2 separate regions of the Homo sapiens genome follow, and region 1 is linked to region 2. The links come from fine-mapping of genetic effects on gene expression. Tissue or cell type: testis. Region 2 holds a variant in brackets; the other region holds the start of a gene. All regions are shown on one strand. Distances are from middle to middle.

Region 1 (5,899 bases), 26 kb before region 2:
AAGACGAAGCCAGCAGAGCTGCCTTAGGGAGTGACACCTGAAAATAGAAACTGCAATGGGATTTTATTTCTAACTCCACAGGCATCTCTGTGAGTCATTCATCTCTCTGGGTCTCACTTTCCTTGTCTGTAAAGCAGGCTGAATTCACCCTGACTTCTGCCTACACCACAGTTAAAGGGCTAGGAAGAAAAATCCCCAAAAATCCACTTCATAAATAGAGCCCCAGGGCGCTCCTTATAAAGCACGAGATAAACCACAGACAGAATTCTGGTCACAGGACACCCCCTGGACCACCCATGGGGCATCATTCCTTTCTCCCGGCTTCCTTCATTCTCCCGGCTTCCTTCACGGGGTTCTGGGCACACCTGGTCCCTTGTAGCTGCGGTCAGCACGGAAACAAGAAAAGCTTCAGACAGGCAAAGGTGCAGAAACCAATGCCAGGGCCCACAGGGACAAAGTTTTCGATTTTTGTGTTTTGGGTGGCAGTACTCTCACACCAGGATGACTGGGTCTTAGCACGACCTAATCGTCTTCATGATGGAAAGAAAGCAAAGCAACTGATTGCCCAGAGAAAACTGGAAGGTACAGAGGCAGGATGAGACTGAGGTGAAGGTAAGGTGAGGAAAGACAGGCGGAGAAATGAAACATCTCAGGGTGGTGTGGGAGTGGACATAGGGTTGGGAGGGCATTGTGACCCCCTAGGCTAATTCCCCCCTCAGACCCCACCCCAACGTTACCTAATCAGGTGGACGTTTTCTTAGTAAGCAGGTTACAACTGACTTGGTTTGGGGCTTTGTTTTTTTTTCTTTTTTTTTTTTTTTGAGACCGAGTTTCACTCTTGTTGCCCAGGCTGGAATGCAGTGGCGCGATCTCAGCTCCCCGCAACCTCCACCTCCCAGGTTCAAGCTATTCTCCTGCCTCAGCCTCCCGAGTAGCTGGGATTACAGGCATGCGCCACCACACCCAGCTAATTTTGTAGTTTTAGTAGAGACATGGTTTCACCATATTGGTCAGGCTGGTCTCGAACTCCCGACCTCAGGTGATCCACCCGCCTCGGCCTCTCAAAGTGCTGGGATTACAGGCGTGAGCCACCGTGCCTGGCTTTTTTTTTTTTTTTTTTTGACACAGTTTCACCCTGTTGCCCTGGCTGGAGTGCAATGGCGCGATCTTGGCTCACTGCAACCTCTGCATCCTGGATTCAAGCGATTCTCGTGCCTCAGCCATCTGAGTAGCTAGGACTACAGGCACGCCACCACGCTTGGCTTTTTTTTTTTTTTTTGTATTATTAGTAGAGATGGGATTTCATCATGTTGGCCAGGCTGGTCTCGAACTACTGACCTCAGGGGATCCACCTGCCTCGGCCTCCCAAAGTGCTGTGATTACAGGCATGAGCCACTACGCCTGACCTGGGGCTATTTATAAGAAGCCCTCAAGGTAGCAGATCACCCTCTGATGGCCACATGGAGATCTGGGAAACGAACCCCCGGTCATGCCTCTGGACACCTGCCCACTTCTATCTGTGCCTTCCTGGGCCCTGGTTTTCAGAGCTATGTGGGTGCCTGACACACTCAGGGCCACAGAACATGGGAAGGGCTCTAGGCCAAGAGTCCCGGCATCATTCGAGTCTGCTCTGGCCCGCTCCTGCCCTAAGCCCTCCTGCTCACTTCCAGCTGTGGAGGTAGCCCAGAGAGTGCCTGGCTCCCTGGCTCCCCCCTCTGCCAGGCCCACTCAGTGTGACCTAAATCCTTGCCGAGGCTTGGCAGCCCTCTGCGGGCGCCCGGATGGCCTCTGGCCTTGGTGACGGTGAGGCCCAGCTCCCCTCAGTTCCCAGCCTTCCCGGAACCCCTTGCCTAACATCCTGTGTGGTAATCATGCCTGTTGGCCCCATTCAGTCCTGCCGGCCACTGCCAAGTTGCCACTGCTAGTTCCAGACGCTCCCACCTCTAATGGAACCATCGGGAAATAAAAAGCTGCAGCACAGTTTCTCTCTCAGGTCAGAATCTCCTCCCAGCACTTTGGGAGGCCAACGTGGGAGAATCACTTGGGCCCAGGAGTTCGAGACCAGCCTGGGCAACAAAGTGAGACCCCGTCTCTACAAAAAGTTGAAAAATTAGTCAGGAGTGGTGGCGAACATCTGTGATCCCAGTTACTTGGGAGGCTGAGGCGGGAGGATCACTTGAGCCTGGGAGGCGGAGGCTGCAGTGAGCTGTGATAGCGCCACTGCACTCCAGCATGGGTGACAGAGCGAGACCCTGTCTCAAAAAAAAAAAAAAAAAAAAAAAAGAAAAAAAGAAAAGAAAAGAAAGAAAAAAGAAAAAGTGGGGAGCAGGTTGGGGAGCATGGTGAGGGCCACCTACTGCCTGATAATGGTGGGGGACAGGAAGGGGACTGAGTGCTCTGAGAGGCAGCTGATCCCGTTTTCTCACTTAAATACCTCTCACCCTACAGAGAAGCCCTGATTCCATTTGCTGTCTTTCTTAGCAATGTCTTAGCAAAAGTCTTCTATTTGCCACACGGGTCCAAGCTTCCGCTTACTAAGCACCCAAGTGCCAGACAACCCCGGAGGCAGGTACTCCCATTGTCCCCACTGTACAGATGAAGAAACTGAACTCAGGGTCACACAAGTGATAAGGGGTGGCAGAGATCTGAAGCTGTGCGCGGAGGCGTGGCCAGCGTGTGCGCTCCGACTTCTAAATCCCTACTCTGGATATTGAAGACGGGAAAGACCGAGCCGCTCATTCTACAGATGGGGAAAAGCGAGGCCTGAGGAGTCCCAGAGCGGGTGCCAGATCGTAGGGAGCAGCCAGCACCCCGGGTCCCCTCCACGACACAACCACGTCCCTCGGCCACTTCTGGGTCCCGCGCGCGTCTCGGACGCGGCAGGACAGCTCTAGGACGCACGGCCACCAGGGGGCCGAAGGGAAGGGCGGGGGCGGAGGCTCGGAGCTGACCCACCGCCTCGCCCCGGAAGCTCCGAGGCCCCGCCCCGGCGGCCGCCAGCGGAGGGCGTGGCCTCGCCGGCGCCCCCGCCCCGCCCCCGCCCCCGCCGCGCGCGCCCCCGCCGCGCGCGCCCCCGGCCCGGGCCCCAGTCTTGCTGAGCGCAAGGCGGTGGAGGCCTGAGGCCTGAGGCCTGGGGCGGGGTGGCGGCCGGGCTGGCCTTGGCCTCGCGCCTTCCCCTGCGGCCGCCGCGGGCTCCGCGGGCGGTATCGGAGTGTCGTGCGGCGCGTGGCCGCGTGACACGCGCACTTGTCGGAGTGACGGGCCCTGCGGAAGAGGAGGTGCGGCCCAGGGCGCAGGGGAGCCCTCGGGAGCGGGCCCGGCCCTCAGCGCCGCCCCGGCCGTGTCCCGGAGGAGCGGCCTGCGCCGCCGCGCGAGAGGAAGTAAGCGCCCCCCGCCGGCCCCGCCGCCGCCCCGGCCCCGGCGCCTCCAACCCGCGCTGCCGCCGGGCCCGAGGCCGCGCCGAGCCCCGGAGCCTGCGCTGCCAGCCCCACGGAGCCTGGGGCTGGCGGCTTTGGAACTGCTCAGGAGGCGGCCAGGCTCCCTCCAGGGTCGCCCCGAGCGGCCGAGCTGTCCTTTCCCTGGGCTTCCCGGAACTGAGTTCCAGGAGAGGGGGAACTCCGAGATTTCCCCCGGGACCTGCTTAATCTTTGGCATTGATTGGCCCTCGGGTTTCACATAGCGTTTCCCGTACCCGGATCTAGTGAACGGTTTTCCAGGGGCAAACCTCTCTGGATCTCTGAAAATCAGCTCACCCAACCTTGAATGCTTAGCCAGAAGTGAGAACTTCTGGAAAGAAGTGTCCTTGCCCACTCCCCCTGCACCCACAACAGGCCCATGGCTCATGAAAGGCAGCAGATGAGGGAAAACTGGTGTCAAATGGGCATATTTTTTATTTTATCTTTTTACTTTTTTATATAAAAGTAAAAAATCTTTTACTTATAAAAGATGGGGTCTTGCTTGGTTGCCCAGGCTGGAGTACAGTGGCACAAACACGGTTCCCTGCAGCCTCCACCTCTTGGGCTCAGGCCATCGTCCTGCCTCAGCCTCCGGGGTAGCTGGGACCACAGGCGCACACCACCACGCCTGGCTAATTTTTAAACCTTTTGTAGAGACAGTGGTCTCACTATGTTGCCCTGGCTGGTCTCGAACTCCTGGGCTCAAGCGATCCTCCTGCTTAAGCCTTACGAAGTGTTGGGATTACAGGTGTGAAGCACCACGCCCAGACAGCGTATTTTAAATTATGCATCATATCCCTTTAATTTTTCATCATTATGATTGGAAGATCATGAAAAGCTGTCTGAGTTTTTCCTTGGCATTTTTCTGTGGTTGATGGTTAGTTGTTGCCCAAGCTGGAGTGCAATGGCGCGATCTCGGCCCACTGCAACCTTCTCCTCCTGGTTCAAGCGATTCTTCCACCTCAGCCTCCTGAGTGGCTGGGATTACAGGCGCGTGCCACCACACCCGGCTAATTTTATGTATTTTTTAGTAGAAACAGGGTTTCACTATGTTATCCAGGCTTGTCTTGAACTGCTGACCTCAGGTGATCCACCACCTCGGCCTCCCAAAGTGCTGGGATTACAGGCATGAACCACCGCGCCCAGCTGGTTAGTTGGTTTTAACAGCAGTTCAAGAAGCTAGCAAGAAGGACTTCATTCGTGAAGCTAATGGTTTAATGATAGAAACTAACATTTCTGGCCGGGCCCAGTGGCTCACGCCTGTAATCCCAACACTTTCGGAGGCCAGGGCGGGCAGGTCACTTGAAGAGTTCAAGACCAGCCTTGCCAACATGGTGAAACCCCGTCTCTACTAAAAATACAAAAATTTGCTGGGCATGGGGGCAGCGGATGCCTGTAATCCCAGCTGCTGGGGAGGCTAAGGCAGGAAAATCGCTTGAACCGCCCTGCCTCCGGTGACGGAGGTTGCAGTGAACCAAGATCGTGCCACTGCACTCCAGCCTGGGTGACAAAGCTAGACTTCTCCTTAAAAAAAAAAAAAAAAAAAAGCAGCTAGGATTTCTTGGGTGCTTACTGTATGCCAGGCATTGTGCTAAGTACCTTACATGCTTCCCATCGATTTGTTTTCCCATTCTGTGGTTGAGGTACAGAGAGGTTAAATAACTTGTCTGAGGGTACATAGTTACTGAGTGGCAGGGATTTGAATCCAGAATATTCTTATGTAACCAGTTCTCCAAAAACTAGCCCTTGAAGGTCTTCCACGTTTCAACAAAGCAACTGAGGCTTATACATGATGTCTTCATGATGTCAGAAGGAAGAACTGTGAAAGGCAAAGCGGACCCGGGAGGCAGAGGCTGGTTACCGCAGTTAGTGTTCGGAACAGCTTGACTTCATGGAGCAGAGAAACAGCCTGTCTGGTTTAAACCACTGTTCAGTATCTACACTGATACAGTGTAAATGTAATACAGTGTTTTACATTTTGCCATTCAGGGATGTAGTCACATTTTACGGGAAGGTTAGCTCTGGGACCAGACTGCCTGTATTCAAATCCTATCACCTCTAGCTGCTTGACCTTTGGTAAGTTATTTGACTTCTCTTTTTTTTTTTTTTTTTTTTTTTTTTGAGATGGAGTCTTGCTCTGTTGCCCAGGGGCGCAATCTCAGCTCACTGCAACGTTCGCCTCCTAGGTTCAAGTGATTCTGCTCCCTCAGCCTCCCAAGTAGCTGGGATTACAGGCACCTGCCACCACGCCTGGCTAATTTTTGTATTGTTAGTAGAGACGGGGTTTCACCGTGTTGGCCAGGCTGGTTTTAAACTCCCGACCTCCAATGATCCTCCTGCCTCAGCCTCCCAAAGTGCTGGGATTATAGGCGTAAGCCACTGCGCCTGGCCATGTTATTTGACTTCTCTTTGCCTTAGTTTCCTCTCTACTCCCTGCTAAGATG
Region 2 (5,899 bases):
TCAAAGTAATCATGTTGCTTTCTCACCACATTACGTCTTGGAGGTTTATCCGTGACAATGTGTGGATCTTCATTTTCTCTGCTGTCCACTGTCTGAACGTAGTGCTGTGTTAGGGGCTAGGGATGCAGCAGAGGGCAGATGCCACTCAGATGGAGCCTCCCTCGTAGTGGGGAAGAAAGAGAAACAGGCCTGAATTACAGTCAGCTGGGCTAGAAGAAGCCAGGGCCCCTCAGAAGGGGTAGGCCAAAGCTCCTAGAAGCTGAGCCCTTAAGGATGACTGGGAGTTTGCTGGGTGAACAAACAAATCCCAGGTTAGGGGTCCTACGTGCAGAAGCCTTTGAGAAATGATGGCTCCTCGTGTCTGAGGCCAGGCTCTCTCTGTAGGTGAGGGTGTGAGGAGACTTGGGCATTGGAACTCTCCTGCGAGGTGGTATGCGTTGGAACCCTGATCTCTGGGACTGTCCTGTATATTCGAGTCACCGATAATCAGTGCTCACCGGGGTTCAGCCTCAGAGGAGGGAGTGGAGCGGAGCTCGTGGTTAAGCAGTGTCTGCTTCTGCCCCCGCGCCTGGTCACCTGCCTCCTTCCTCACTCGCGGAGCAGGAGTGATCACGGTGCCTGCGTGCAGGGTCTTTGTGAGTATGGGGAGGAGCGGCGCGGGCCGGGGCTGCTGTCAGCGTTGGTGTTGTTATGCTGGTGTTGTTACGTTGCTATTGTTACACCGGTGTTGTTACGCCAGTGTTGTTATGTTGCTGTTGTTACGCTGGTGGTGTTATGTTGGTGTTGTTACATCAGTGTTGTTACGTTGCTGTTGTTACACCCGTGTTGTTACGTTGTTATACCGATATTGTTACGCCAGGGTTGTTACATTGTTGTTACACCAGTGTTATGTTGTTGTTACACTGGTGTTGTCATTCTTATCCCAGTGTTGTTATGTTGTTATGTCAGTGTTAATGTTGCTGTTGTTATGCTGTTGTTACACCAGTGTTATGTTGTTGTTACACCGGTGTTGTACACCATTGTTATGCCGGTGTTGTGTTGTTACACTGGTGTTATGTTGCTGTTACACCAGTGTTGTTACATTGCTGTTAAGCTGGTGTTATATTGTTATGCTGGTGTTGTAACATTGCTGTTAACACCGTTGTTATGTTGCTGTTATGCCGGTGTTGTGCCAGTGTTATGCCGGTGTTGTTTTGTTGTTGTTACGCTGGTGTTACATTGTTACACCAGTGTTATGTTGTTGTTACACCGGTGTTGTTATGTTGCTGCTGTTACATCGGTGTTGTTACATTGTTATGCTGGTGTTGTTATGTTGTTGTTACACCAGTGTTGTTACATTGCTGTTGTTACTCTGGTGTTGTTATGTTGTTGTTATGCTGGTGTTGTGTTACTGTTGTTATGTTGTTGTTACGCTGGTGTTGTTATGTTGCTGTTGTTACATCGGTGTTATGTTGTTATGCCAGTGTTACATTGCTGTTACGATGATGGTGTTATGTTGCTGTTGTTACACTGATGTTTTTTGTTTGTTTGTTTTTGTTTTTGAGGCAGAGTCTCGCTCTGTCGCCCAGGCTGGAGTGTAGTGGTGCGATCTCAGCTCACTGCAAGCTCTGCCTCCTGGGTTCACGCCATTCTCCTGCCTCAGCCTCCCAAGTAGCTGGGACTACAGGCGCCCGCCACCACGCCCAGCTAATTTTTTGTATTTTTTAGTAGAGACGGGGTTTCACCATGTTAGGATGGTCTCGATCTCCTGACCTCGTGATCCGCCTGCCTTGGCCTCCCAAAGTGCTGGGATTATGGGCGTGAGCCACCATGCCTGGCCACACCGGTGTTGTTATGTTGCTGTTGTTACACCAGTGTTGTTATGTTGTTGTTACACTGGTGTTGTATGGTTACACCATTGTTGCGCCAGTGTTGTGTTGTTGTTACACTGGTGGTGGTGTTACAACAACTTGTTGTTACACCAGTGTTATGTTGCTGTTAAGCCAGTGTTGTTATGTTGTTATGCTGGTGTTGTTATATTGTTGTTACGCCAGTGTTGTTACGTTGCTGTTATGCTGGTGTTATGTGGTTGTTACACTAGTATTATGTTGCTGTTATTCCAGTGTTGTTACATTGTCACACCAGTGTTGTTACGTTGCTGTTACAATGGTGTTATATTGCTGTTATTAAGCTGGTGTTACGTTGTTGTTATGCTGGTGTTGTTACATTGCTCTTAACACCGGTGTTATGTTGCTGTTGTTACGCCAGTGTTGTTATATTGTTGTTACACCGGTGTTATGTTGCTGTTGTTACACTGGTGTTACATTGTTGTTACACCAGTGTTGTTATGTTGCTGTTGTTACGGTGGTGTTATGTTGTTATGCTGGTGTTGTTTTGTTGTTGTTATGCTGGTGTTACGCCGGTGTTATGTTGTTGTTACACCAGTGTTATGTTGCTGTTGTTACGCCAGTGTTGTTACGTTGTTGTTATGCTGGTGGTGTTATGTTGCTGTTGTTACTCTGCTGTTATGTTGTTGTTACACTGGTATTATGTTACTGTTGTTATGTTGTTATGCTGGTGTTGTTGCACTGCTGTTATGCTGGTGTTATGTTGTTACTCCGGTGTTGTTACGTTGCTGTTGTTACGCCGGTGTCGTTATGTTGTTACGCCAGTGTTGTTACGTTGCTGTTAGCTGGTGTTATATTGCTGTTGTTAAGCTGGTGTTATGTTGTTGTTATGCTGGTGTTGTTACATTGCTGTTGACACTGGTGTTGCTGTTGTTAC[G/A]CCAGTGTTATGTCGTTACACCAGTGCTGTTATGTTGTCGTTACGCCAGTGCTGTTATGTTGCTGTTGTTACGCCAGTGTTGTTATATTGTTGTTACACCAGTGTTATGTTGCTGTTGTTACACTGGTGTTGCATTGTTGTTACACCAGTGTTGTTATGTTGCTGTTGTTACGGTGGTGTTATGTTGTTATGCTGGTGTTGTTTTGTTGTTGTTATGCTGGTGTTATGTTGTTACACCAGTGTTATGTTGCTGTTACGCCAGTGTTGTTACGTTGCTGTTGTTACACCAGTGTTGTTACGTTGCTGCTGTTATGTTGCCGTTGTTACTCTGCTGTTGTTATGTTGTTGTTACACTGGTGTTGCACTGCTGTTATTCTGATGTTGTTATGTTACGCCAATGTTGTTATGTTGCTGTTGTTACATTGGTGTTGTTATGTTGTTGTTACGCTGGTGTTGCTGCACTGCTGTTATGCTGGTGTTGTGTTGTTAGGCTGGTGTTGTTATGTTGCTGTTGTTATGCTGGTCGTGCTGCTCCATGTTCTCCAGGTGTTCTTCCCTTTTATCGTCACAGTTACCCCGTACACCTGACAACTGGACATCTGCGCCTGGGGGTCTTCAGCCTAAACACACCTAAACCCTCCACCAAACCCCTCTGCTTCCGCCTCCCCGTGTCTGTGAGCGCCTCCACTGCCCATCCCTCTGCTCAGGCCCCACTTCCAGGGCTCATGTTGGGGGCCTCCATTTTGCTCACACCCACCCCATCTGTCAGCAGGTCCAGTCAATCCTGACTCTGGGGTGCCTCTCCCTCCCCTCCAGCTCCTGTACTGCCCATTAGTCCAGGCCCTGTCGTCTCTGCTGGGCAGCTGTGCAGCCTCTTCCTTGCCTTCCCTGCATCTGCACCCATTCTCCCCCCAAGACCAGGGGTCGATCCCCAATATAGGTCAGGTCTCGTCTTCTCCTGCCTCAGATCCTCCAGTGTCCCCCCTACAACTGATCTTAGAAAAAAGTCCAGCCTCTTCGCCTTATCCTGCAAGACCCCTGATCTCCTCTCCAGCCTCACCGCTGTCCCCACTCTTTGCTCACCTCCATCTGGCCCCCAGCACACCAAGTTCCTTCCTGCCTCGGGGCTTTGGCACCTGAGGGTCCCTGCAGCTGAGATGCTTTCTCCCTGGCTTTTTGCGAGGCTGGCTCTTCAGGTCTCGGAGGGGCCTTTTCATTACCCTCTGTCACAACTGCTCTGTAATTTTGTTTACTTCCTTTTCTCTTCTTCCCACTTTCCCTCCCTCCCACTCCCCTGCACATTGCCTGGCACAGGTGTGCGCCCGGTAGTGAGGTGGCACTTGTTAGTCTCATCCAAGGGCAGGATGCAGGAACAAAAGTCAAGTAACTTACCCAAGATCACATGCTAGTAAGTGGCAGTCATACTCTGGGGTGCTGCAGCCCCCGCCATGGTGCCATAGCCCCCACAGTGCCGAGCCTCCTACTGGCAGTGGCCAGGCAGGGCGGGGCGAGGGGCTGGCCAGTATCTACAGAGGCAATCTGGCCTTTGCTGGGAATAGAGCTTTCTTCATGTGGATTTCTGTAGAGGCTCACGGATTTGACGCCTTCTCTTACAGTAGTTCTCATTGACAGAGGTGGCTTCAAGACTTCCTCCCTCCCTTCTCGTGGTGAGGTTGGCTTTGGTGTGCACCATTTTTATAGGCCCTGTGGACTGGGGGAAGAGGATGCAGGATGAATGTGCGGGCTGGGGTTTTGGTGCACCTCGGGGAGATCTGATGTTCTGGCCTCTCTTTAGATCCTCCCCACTTCTCCACCTCCCTCCACCAGGCCGCACCAGCTTCTATGAGGAGTACGGTGTCATTCGCGACGTCCTCCAGAACCATCTGACGGAGGTCCTCACCCTCGTGGCCATGGAGCTGCCCCACAATGTCAGCAGTGCGGAGGCTGTGCTGCGGCACAAGCTTCAGGTCTTCCAGGCGCTGCGGGGCCTGCAGAGGGGCAGTGCCGTCGTGGGCCAGTACCAGTCTTACAGTGAGCAGGTGCGCAGAGAGCTGCAGAAGCCAGACAGCTTCCACAGCCTGACGCCGACCTTCGCAGGTGGGCCCTGGGGCTGGGCATGGGGCACTGGGCTGCCCACTTCGCCGGGAGCAGCTTTCCAAATGCAGACGCCCTTGGGTGGAGTGGAGGGGACTTGAGGTGGGATTTCCCCCAGGGTGCTCGGAGGCAAGGATGGCATTCCCCTGTCTCCCTGGCCTCCTACCAGCCTAAAGTGGCAGGCCAGCTGGTGGTGCCCTCAGGGCGAAGGACATCCCAATGGCCATGGCCTCGTGTCAGCCCCAGTTCAGTCCCAGATGCTTCCCAAGGGTTTGTCGTGCGAGGCTCAGACAGACCTGGTTCCTGCCTCATAGGGTCTCCCCAGTGAGGCCGCAAGCCTTTTGCCTGGCCACAGCTGGAGACACTTCCAGCGGCCAAGTGCCATGCCAGGGCTGTCCTCTGGGCAGTTCCAGAGACCCAGGGCTTTCTGGGAGAGGCTGGCTCCTCACCAGGTAGCAGCCAGGCAGTAAGAGCCACAGCTGCCTGTTGAGCACGCGCCGTATGCCAGGTGCTTTATAGATGCCTCTCATACAAGCCTCACGCACCAACCACGAGGCAGGGGCCATTAGCCCCGTTTTACAGGTGAGGAAACGTAAGGCTCGGTGAAGTCGTCAGAATGAACCAGGCTTGGAACTTGGGCATGGAATACTGTCAGCCCCTGGCTCTTGCCACCAGGCCTTGTCCCTCCTTGCCAACACCCCACCCACGGGCCTCTGCTTGGTGACTCTCTCCTCACCCCGCACCTCTGACCCTGCGTCGGGTGCATCCTGAATGCTTCACAAGCAGGAGGGAAGCACGTTTCTCTGTAGGACCCCCTGACCCCTCAAATACCTAAGAGTCAGGGTCCCCCACCCCACTTGCCCCCACTGTGGGGCGTCCTTTAGAGTCTCCAGGTTGGATGCTCTCAGCCCGGTTCTCCTTTCCTGGGGGACCATAACTCTAAGAGGGGCCTCAATGAAGGCAGGTGTCAAAGCCATAGAGATAGCCCCAGAGGCCGGTTTTCAAGCATGGACTGGGAAGAGAAGGTCATGGAAGAGATGCC

Evidence for each region. PIP is the estimated chance that this variant, and not a neighbour inherited with it, causes the effect.
Region 1: H6PD starts here. The variant in region 2 is fine-mapped to the expression of H6PD in testis (GTEx, PIP 0.94).

What each region holds. Positions count from the first base shown.
Region 1 is chr1:9,231,687-9,237,585 of GRCh38, forward strand. It overlaps H6PD (hexose-6-phosphate dehydrogenase/glucose 1-dehydrogenase), which reads left to right and starts at 3,088. Exons shown (of 5, transcript NM_004285.4): 1 at 3,088-3,380. RefSeq lists a silencer at 2,941-3,500.
Region 2 is chr1:9,257,469-9,263,367 of GRCh38, forward strand. It overlaps H6PD (hexose-6-phosphate dehydrogenase/glucose 1-dehydrogenase), which reads left to right. Exons shown (of 5, transcript NM_004285.4): 4 at 4,591-4,860. Among named protein-coding and RNA genes, the nearest start is that of H6PD, 26 kb to the left of the region's middle. The variant G/A (reference allele first, on the strand shown) is at 2,764.